Regions from separate parts of the Homo sapiens genome. Here region 2 is reported to be linked to region 1. The links are microRNA targets in miRTarBase. Many come from high-throughput screens and were not tested one by one. Region 1 holds a microRNA gene; the other region holds the end of a gene's coding sequence.
Evidence for each region. The annotated mature microRNA hsa-miR-3689d reads GGGAGGUGUGAUCUCACACUCG and lies in region 1 at 2,492-2,513, opposite strand. An mRNA with a match to its seed (bases 2 to 7 or 8) in the 3' UTR can be bound and repressed. Matches are read on the target gene's strand: a 7mer-m8 pairs with bases 2 to 8, a 7mer-A1 pairs with bases 2 to 7 and ends in A, and an 8mer does both.

Region 2: the mRNA of UNC119B is a reported target of hsa-miR-3689d. Seed matches in the 3' UTR shown: 7mer-m8 at 907-913 and 7mer-m8 at 2,288-2,294.

The regions. Positions count from the first base shown.
Region 1 is chr9:134,847,169-134,852,241 of GRCh38, forward strand. It overlaps MIR3689D1 (microRNA 3689d-1), which reads right to left and starts at 2,514; the gene lies at 2,441-2,514. It overlaps MIR3689C (microRNA 3689c), which reads right to left and starts at 2,201; the gene lies at 2,130-2,201. MIR3689A (microRNA 3689a) reads right to left here and starts at 2,396; the gene lies at 2,319-2,396. MIR3689B (microRNA 3689b) reads right to left here and starts at 3,104; the gene lies at 2,957-3,104. It also overlaps MIR3689D2, MIR3689E, MIR3689F and LOC101448202.
Region 2 is chr12:120,719,572-120,724,643 of GRCh38, forward strand. It overlaps UNC119B (unc-119 lipid binding chaperone B), which reads left to right. Exons shown (of 5, transcript NM_001080533.3): 5 at 349-4,069. The coding sequence ends at 461. MIR4700 (microRNA 4700) reads left to right here and starts at 3,622; the gene lies at 3,622-3,695.

The DNA.
Region 1 (5,073 bases):
AGGAGATGCCACTCCAGGGGACACGGGCTGACCAAGACCCACAAGGCAGGGGTAAGGTGTGCCCAGAGGAATGAGACCTGAGGAAATGTAAAGGGGAGGAGACAATGTGCATGTGTGTGGTTGTGTGTGTGTGGGGGGGGTGATGTGCATGTGTGTATGGCACGTGTGTGCATGTGCTATGTGGTGTATTTTGCATGTGCTATTTGTGTTTATGTGAAGTGTATGTGTGTTGTGTGTGTACCTGTGTGTGTGGTGTGCCTGTGTGGTGTGTGTGTGTGCCTGTGGGGAGCTGTGCCTGTGTATGTGGTGTGTGTGCCTGTGTGTGTGGTGTGTGTGGTGTGTGTGTGTGTGGTGTATGCCTGTGTGTGGAGGTGGTGTTTGTGCATGTGCCTGTGTGGTGTGTGTGCTGGCGTGTGTATGGTATATGTGTGCGTGCCTGTGGGGAATGTGCCTGTGTGTGTGGTGTGTGCTGCATGTGTATAGTGTGCATGCCTGTGTGTGTGGTTTGTGCTGTGTCTGTATAGTGTGTGTGTGGGTGTGGTGTGTGTGCCTGTGTGTATGGGGTGTGTAGTGTGTGTGGGGTGGGGATTGAAGTGCTCTCCTGGGTGACCAGGGCCACTGGGAAGGTTCTCTCTGCCTGGAGCCCAGCGGGCAGGAAGGGCTTTGCAGGAGAGGGAACAGCAGGGCAGAGGCCAGAGGGAGTGGGGAGAGGAAGGGGAAGTGGGAGGGGGCTGGTGTGGCCTGAGCAGAGATGGGGAGGGAAGCCACACGGGGCAGTAACCCAGACGCAGGCTGGGGGCGGTGCAGACCCATGAGAGTGGGTCACACTCCGGCTCCAGGTGTTTCAAAGATGGGGTTGATGGGATTTGCTGAGAAGAGGAGGTCGAAAGTGAGACGAGAGAATTCCAGGAGATGCTCAGCCACAGGCATGACCCCCACAGTGCCGCAGGAGCACACACACACGCGCACACACGTTTACCCACTGACAGCTGTGGCCTGGTGAGACCAGGCTGAGGACAGCTGCCTCAGCGACCCAGGCTCAGATGCCACCAGTGCCCCATGTGGCCTCGGGGAATCTGCTGCTCAGAGCTCCTGTCTGCCCATTTGCACATGGGACCCATGAATGGAGGAGGCACTCTGGCCATGTGGCCAGAGGCCCCGCTCCTGTCCTGCAGATGTCTTGGTGACGAAACCCGATCCATGCATGTGGAGGAAGGTGGGGGCATCCCTGGAGCTGGCCTGTGCCAGGCCAAAGTGCTCCTTTGAGCTGCCCAGGGCTGTCCTAGTGAGTGTCCTCAGGCTCTGGCCACCCAGGAGGGCCAGGGGCGTCTGCATTCGGGAGTGGGTTGGAGAAGGGGACGATGGGAGAGCAGGAAGCTTTTGCAACTGCTCCAGGGCCATTGGGAGGGTGCAATTGGCTGACACCCGGAACTTCATTGATGCTTACCCCACGTGCCCTCTGTGTGGGTCCCGCTCCCAGTGCGGACACCACCTCCTAGCTCTCACTAGCTCATGCAGGCCTCTGGGGCCCTCCTGAATCCACACCTCCCAGGGCTGGGTCCTGGTTGTTCCCCAATGGGGAGCTGTGCCTCTCTATCACCAGCAGGCATGTGATCACACCTCCCAGGAAGCACAGGATCACACCTCCCAGGAAGCACGGGATCACACCTCCCAGGAAGCACGGGATCACACCTCCCAGGAAGCACGGGATCACACCTCCCAGGAAGCACGGGATCACACCTCCCAGGGAGCACGGGATCACACCTCCCAGGGAGCACGGGATCACACCTCCCAGGGAGCATGGGATCACACCTCCCAGGGAGCACGGGATCACACCTCCCAGGGAGCACTGGATCACACCTCCCAGGGAGCACCGGATCACACCTCCCAGGAACCACGATATCACACCTCCCAGGAAGCACAGGATCACACCTCCCAGGAAGCACAGGATCACACCTCCCAGGGAGCACCGGATCACACCTCCCAGGGAGCACCAGATCACACCTCCCAGGAACCACGATATCACACCTCCCAGGAAGCACAGGATCACACCTCCCAGGAAGCACAGGATCACACCTCCCAGGAAGCACAGGATCACACCTCCCAGGAAGCACGGGATCACACCTCCCAGGAACCACAATATCACACCTCCCAGGAACCACGATATCACACCTCCCAGGAACCACGATATCACACCTCCCAGGAACCACGATATCACACCTCCCAGGAAGCACGGGATCAGACCTCCTGGGGAGCACGGGATCACACCTCCCAGGAAGCACAGTATCACACCTCCCAGGAAGCACGGGATCACACCTCCCAGGAACCACGATATCACACCTCCCAGGAAGCACAGGATCACACCTCCCAGGAACCATGATATCACACCTCCCAGGGAGCACAGGATCAGACCCCCCAGGGAGCACAGGATCACACCTCTCAGGAAGAACAGGATCACACCTCCCGGGGAAGACGATAGCACACCTCCCAGCGAGTGTGAGATCACACCTCCCAGTGAGCGTGGGATCACACCTCCCAGGAAGCATGGTATCACACCTCCCAGGAAGCACAGGATCACACCTCCCAGGAAGCACGGGATCACACCTCCCAGGAAGCATGGGATCACACCTCCCAGGGAGCACCAGATCACACCTCCCAGGAACCACGATATCACACCTCCCAGGAACCACGATATCACACCTCCCAGGAACCACGATATCACACCTCCCAGGAACCACGATATCACACCTTCCAGGAAGCACAGGATCACACCTCCCAGGAAGCACGGGATCACACCTCCCAGGAACCACGATATCACACCTCCCAGGAACCACGATATCACACCTCCCAGGAAGCACAGGATCAGACCTCACAGGGAGCACGGGATCACACCTCCCAGGGAGCACGGGATCACACCTCCCAGGGAGCACGGGATCACACCTCCCAGGGAGCACGGGATCACACCTCCCAGGGAGCACGGGATCACACCTCCCAGGAACCACAATATCACACCTCCCAGGAAGCACGGGATCACACCTCCCAGGAACCATGATATCACACCTCCCAGGAAGCACAGGATCAGACCCCCCAGGGAGCACAGGATCACACCGCTCAGGAAGAACAGGATCACACCTCCCAGGGAAGACGATAGCACACCTCCCAGCGAGTGTGAGATCACACCTCCCAGTGAGCGTGGGATCACACCTCCCAGGAAGCATGGTATCACACCTCCCAGGAAGCACAGGATCACACCTCCCAGGAAGCATGGGATCACACCTCCCAGGAAGCACAGGATCACACCTCCCAGGAAGCACGGGATCACACCTCCCAGGAACCACGATATCATACCTCCCAGGAACCATGATATCATACCTCCCAGGAAGCACGGGATCAGACCTCCCAGGGAGCACGGGATCACACCTCCCAGGAACCACGATATCATACCTCCCAGGAACCATGATATCACACCTCCCAGGAGGCATGGGATCAGACCTCCCAGGGAGCACGGGATCACACCTCCCAGGAAAGCACGGGATCAGACCTCCCAGGGAGCACGGGATCACACCTCCCAGCGAGTGTGGGATCACACCTCCCAGGAAGCACAGCATCACACGTCCCAGGAAGCACGATATCACACCTCCCAGGAAGCACAGGATCACACCTTCCAGGAAGCACAGGATCACACCTCCCAGGAACCACGATATCACACCTCCCAGGAAGCACAGGATACACCTCCCAGGGAGCACAGGATCATACCTCCCAGGGAGCACAGGATACACCTCCCAGGGAGCACGGGATCACACCTCCCAGGGAGCACGGGATCACACCTCCCAGGGGAGCCACAGGTTCTTAATGGGACAAGGCCAGCGCTTAGCAGAAGTGTTCCTGGTGTTTCTTGGTGTCTGCCCATCAGTGGCCCCCACCTGGCTGCCTGTTGAAGTCATCCGGGGAGCCCCCTAAAAGTACGCATTCTAGGTCCACCTCTAGGCCTTCTAAGCCAAGCCACCCGCGGGGAGGTGGTGGTAGAACCTGCAGTGTGTGAGGTCCCACACCCCACCCCATAGGGTTCTCTGCTCGGCTACACTTGGAGCTCACTTCACTTCAGCGGCATGGAGACAGTAGCCCCACCCGTCCCCACACACCCGCACTTCTGCAGGAAAGGGCCTTCCGTCAGAGCCCACAGCGGGCTGGGCCTGCAGCTGAATGAAGTCAACTACTTAAACGTCCTGAAGAGGGAAGGAAACCACACTGAATAAAGTTAGAGGTGTGCACATGCAACGTTCTGCATGCTTTAGAGTTACAGGTGTGCACAGGTAGCATTGTGTGTGCTTTGGATGGAGTTGGAGGTGTGCACAGGTAGCATTGTGTGTGCTTTAGATGGAGTTGGAGGTGAGCACAGGTAGCATCGTGTGTGCTTTAGATGGAGCTGGAGGTGTACACAGGTAGCATTGTGTGTGCTTTAGATGGAGTTACAGGTGTGCACAGGTAGCATTATGTGTGCTTTAGATGGAGGTGTGCACAGGTAGCATTGTGTGTACTTTAGATGGAGATGGAGGTGTGCACAGGTAGCATTGTGTGTGCTTTAGATGGAGTTGGAGGTGTGCGCACAAAGCACTGTGTGTGCTTTAAATGGAGTTGGAGGTGTGCACAAAGCATTGTGTGTGCTTTAGATGGAGTTGGAGGTGTGCACAGGTAGCATGGTGTGTGCTTTAGATGGAGTTGGAGGTGTGCGCACAAAGCACTGTGTGTGCTTTAAATGGAGTTGGAGGTGTGCACAGGTAGCATTGTGTGTGCTTTAGATGGAGTTGGAGGTGTGCACAGGCAGCATTGTGTGTGCTTTAGATGGAGTTGGAGGTGTGCACAGGTAGCATTGTGTGTGCTTTAGAAGGAGATGGAGGTGTGCACAGGTAGCATCGTGTGTGCTTTAGATGGAGTTGGAGGTGTGCACAGGCAGCATTGTGTGTGCTTTACATGGAGTTGGAGGTGTGCACAGGTAGCATTGTGTGTGCTTTACATGGAGTTGGAGGTGTGCACAGGTAGCATTGTGTGTGCTTTACATGGAGTTGGAGGTAT
Region 2 (5,072 bases), not on the chromosome of region 1:
CACTGAGTAAATAGGTTGGTGGGGTCCATGTTGGGAAGAGGGGTGAGCACATTTCCCTGGTATCTTGGCTGAAGAATCCAGGCTGGAGATGACAGAGGAGGCCATGGTGGAGAGTTGATTGCATCCTTATGTTGAAATGGAGATCATGTTCAGCTGGGGGGCCTCTGTGGTCTCCCCAGCTGTCAAGGGCTGCCTCCCTCTGTTCTGACCTCATCGTTATTCTGGCAGAGTATACTCTGAAGCGCTGGCTTATTTTGGAGGGGATGCAAAGTTTTCTCCCACCTACCCTGTGGGGCAGACTCAAACATAATTCTTTGCTTTTTTCTTCCCCCTTTGCCTGACTTGCAGTTCGTCTAATGATTGAAAATCCTTACGAGACCCGCTCTGACAGCTTCTACTTTGTTGACAACAAGCTGATAATGCACAACAAGGCTGATTATGCCTATAATGGAGGCCAGTAAGTGCTGCAAGAGTAGATAGGGGAGGTGCTTTGCCGCGGCCACAAGATCCTGGCACACGGAGATGATCGAAGCTGCAGTTTGTCAACACACATCTGGAACCTGGCCCCAGGAAGCCAAGGCTGGGGTGGCAGTTTCCTGCGCGCCAAAGGAGCTGCCAAACAGTGCTGTGTTTTCTTCCCCAGTATTTTTTCTTCCCTTTTTTTCCTGCCCCGTAGGTTGCAGAGGTACTATAGTAAAGTAAAAGGTTAGGATAAGGGTCCTGGAATCCAGATAAAAAAGTTTATTTTCCGTAGTTCTGGCTGCCTGTTGGTTGTCTTGACGACCAGGCATAGCTGTGCCTGGTGAGAAGGCTCTGGCCAGGCCCACCAGCAGGTCAGCAGCTCTTAAGGTTCCTGGGTGCTGTGGGAAGCTGAAAGGTAGGCCTCTTCCAGGTAGCTCCTCCTCTCACCTCCGGCATTGCCATCAGCGCAGTCTGCCCTCGGTCTGTGTGAAGTCTTAAACCAACTGGAAGACACTTGAAAGGGTGGGGAGGGAGGGAGGTGCCAAGAGTGGAGGCACCAAGGAATGGGTGATGCTGCCAAGCTGAAGGGTCTGCTTTGTGGAGAGGCTGCTGCTCTGTCTGACTTCCAGGGTCTCAGCCAGCCCTCCTGGGAATAGACCAAGTTTTCAGCCTGGCAGTGCCTTCTGTTCCCATTTTGGAGGACAGACAAGCTTGCTCCACATCTCCTGGCTCCTCCCTTCTGAGTCTCATGAAATAGAATGAGTCAGCTCTGCTCATGGAACAGTAGTATCTCTTGAGGCCAGAGCAGGTCTTGTATTTTGTTTTTTTATTTCCAGACTTCTTTCGGGGAGGTTTTATAAAATGACAGTGGTGTTCCCAGCATATGTGATATGTGGTTAGACTTCTGATAGTATCAGCTTCCAGGGGCTAATCTGGCTTATGTTGGGAGGATATGCTTACGAATCAGCAGCAGCTTTCTAAAGGAGAGATTTGACTTTTCTCTGCACTGCACAGCCTGGAGGATTGGCTTTTGATGGGGATTTGCCTCCGAAGCTCTTTGTACATTTCTTGTTTAGGAGGGTTTTCCTATCTACCTTTCTACTGAAGTAGTTTCTGGAACTTTCCTGGTGGATCAGAGTTACGTAATGCAGTCTGAGCCTTCAGACTGCTAGTTAGAATTGTTTTAGGTGTTCAGAAAGGGCAAAATAGGCTGATGTGGCCTGTCAGAGTGATGTGTTCTCAAAAAAGTTCACTTGCACATCTGTGGGCTGCTTTTGTCCTCAGACCCTTAGTGGACAGACTCCACAAACCCTCTGATGAGACGATTGATGTGGCCAGGGTCCAGTTAGCATCAGTAGAAGGATGTCACTAGGAAAGGCCCAGGTATCTGGTAAGTGACTGTGAGGTGTCACAGTACCTGTGACAGGAGAGTGTCCTGATGTGCTTGGGAGAAAGGCCGTATGGGGGCCAGGGATGGAAGAGACAGTGTGTGGCCACAGAAATTCCTGTCCATCCACCACCAGTGCTGCTCCCTGTGTGGGCTTTAGGGCGAGTGGCCCCGAACCTTGGCCCAGTGCTTTGTCCCAGGCCAGAGTCTTGGCAATGCCACATGCTGGCAGCTTTCTCACTGAGAAGGTCCTAGCTTACCCCTGTGTGCTGGCCTTGGATTCAGCCCCGAGAGAGGGGAGAGACCATTCCTCCTGTGGAGTGGGTTCCTTATCACCAGACCGGCCACTCTCAGAACTGGCGTCCACTGTAAATCCAGGTGCCTTACGTGTGGCTCTGTCCCTTATGCTGCAGGGGAAAGCTGCATTGCCATTGTTCCCACCTCCTCACTGGCAGAAAGATGCCAGGGCTGTTAGCACTGTCTCCTCACCTTCTGTTTCTCATTGTGGCTCCTCAAATGGGATTTGCATGTTCCTGTCAAGCGTAACAACAATCCCTTCTCTCTTTGACAGAGGCCCAGGTGGGACAGTTTCTACTATTTGATATTTGAGTATTATCTGGGATGTGGTTCTGGAGCTGCCCAGAGCTGTGCTTAGTAGAGTGTGTCTTGGAAACATGCCCCTGGGCACACTGTATCTGCTACATTAGTGGGCTATCTCTTATCTGCAGTGTTCGCTTTTGCTAGAAAGAGGATGTGGAGGAAGGAGGAGGTGGGCAATCTGGCTTGAGTTGTGCTGTATCCTCTTCCTTGTTAGCTTGCCTTAGTCTCACTGGAGACCATTTGCGGATAGTGCTTGGTCCATGCCCAGCAGGACAGGGCTTTGCTGCTTCTGAAAGTCTGGTGTTCTGTATCTGGGGCTGTGGGTTCCTGTGTCTAGCTGCTCAGGAAATCTTGAGAAGCATTCCACTCTGGGGTGTAAACCAGTATGAGTTTGAAATTCAAGCGTTTGTACCTGAGTTGGGGAGAGAATTGCAAGGCATACTTTCTCTGAAAGTAACAGAACCATTCAGGCTGCCATGTTATTAAGGAATCTGAACTGTTGATAGCAGTTACCTTGTGGGTGATACAATGGGAGGCGGCAAAAAAACTACCTGCATAGGAGACCCTGCCCTTTGTCAAGAGCTGGGAGCACATTTCATCAGAGTAGCAGGCCCACCTGGTGCCAGAGGGCCTGCCCCTCCTGCTTCTGTTCCTTTGCCTTGCAGTCTCCTGGAGAGAGCCTCTCTTTTCCTGTACAGCCTTTGGGCCAAAATGCCCTTCTAGCTTCTCCAAAGAAGATCCGAGTTTATTTCATTCTATGTTTTAAGAGGTAAAAGGACATAACAAGTGAAAGAAGTTTTGGGCTAAAGTAGGCTATGTCTCCTTATGTATTACTCAATACTGTTTTGCAGAGAAAACATTTTTCAAGCATGTGCTTCCTGAAGACACCTCAGTCTTTGGGCCATTTGATTTCCAATACATAGGGTGGAAGAATGTGATTTTGGGGCTGACCATAAACTGGAAATTTGTGAAATGGCAGTGATTGGGCAATCTTCAGTTTATTTTTTCAGTTGAAGTGGAACTCATTTCTGGAATGGATTTAATAGGCTGTGTCTAATGTACAAACTGGGTGAGTCCTGCCTTAGTGTGTCCTGCCCCACCGGTACGCTTCCAGGATACTCTTTTCCCCTCTGTAAAGTCACTTTCTTCTGATGGCCAGTGTCACTATGATGTCAGTGAGGTCTGGGGATGAGGACAGTGTGTCCTGAAATTCACAGGACTGACTCCTCACCCCAGTGCACGAGGATTCCTGTGGCATCAGGTGCTGCTGTACCTGGTGTAGGAGCCTAATCATTGAACCATTGTGTTACTCACATTCCATGTCACAGAACATATCAGCCTCAAGAAGGATTTGGTGGAGGTGGATTTACCACTGGTTTTACAAAGGACCGTGTAAAGTCATTGAAGTTGTGAAAGTCTATTTTTTTTCCTGTAAATCTATTTTTTACAGAATATAAGAAACATCAATGACCTGATCTGTCCTTCCTCCTCCTTCCCGCTTCCCCCAAAATCACATTCCAGTTTTTATTGTCTTTGTGTCCAAAGTAAACTAGGTGACTTATTTGTATAAAATGTTATTTTGCCACATGAGACAGTAATAAAAGAAAGATTTTCACAGTACGTCTCCCTCGTCCTGTCTCCTGATTGTTGGGCCCGTTGTGTTGCTGAGGGGAGCAGGGGCGAATGGGGGCTCCAGGTTTCTCTTACTTTGGCTATTATGTGGCCCTTCTGTAAGTAGTTGAACTAGAGTATAGCTGGCTTCTAGGGTGATTGAGGAATTGTACTGGACTTTAGGCTTAATATTTTTGCTTTATATTTTCCCAGGGTGAGTGGCTTTGTAAATTGAAAGTTTACATGCATGTTTTAAAGGTAGGGTTTTTTTTTTTGAGATGGAGTTTCGCTCTTTTTTCCCAGGCTGGGATGTGATGGCATGATGGTGGCTCACTGCACCCTTCGCCTCCCGGGTTCAAGTGATTGTCCTGCCTCAGCCTCCCAAGTAGCTGGGATTACAAGTGCATGCCACCACGCCCGGCTAATTCTGTATTTTTGGTAGAGACAGGGTTTCCCCATGTTGGCCAGGCTGGTCTTGAACTCCTGACCTCAGGTGATCAACCCGCCTTGGCCTCCCAAAGTTCTGGGATTACAGGTGTGAGCCACTGTGGCTGGCCATAAAGGTAGGCTTATTAAGAAATACTTTAACTACAGTAAAATTTACCTCAATTAAGAGTATTGATGCATTTTGACAAATGAATACTTTTATTACCCATCACAATCATGATATAGGACATTTCCATCGTACCCACTCAGAAAGTTCCTGAGTTCCTTGTGTTTGCAGCCAGGTGACTTCCCCCACTTCGCCTCTTGCAACCACTATCTGATTCTGTCTCTATTGGAAAACTTGGATACTTTTAAAATGAAATTTGAACGTTCATATTTACAGTCACAAATTCTCAAGAGTCTGGTTTAGATGCTCTGTGGCACCTGAAGCAATTATTGGCCTTTGCTCACAAACACAACTCACTTATTTCTCCCTTTTCTCCTGCTTCTTCATCGTTTCTTCCACCCAGGGCTGGTTCCCAGGTGGGATGACGGAAAGGTGAGGAAGCCCTTAGAGCATTTGCCA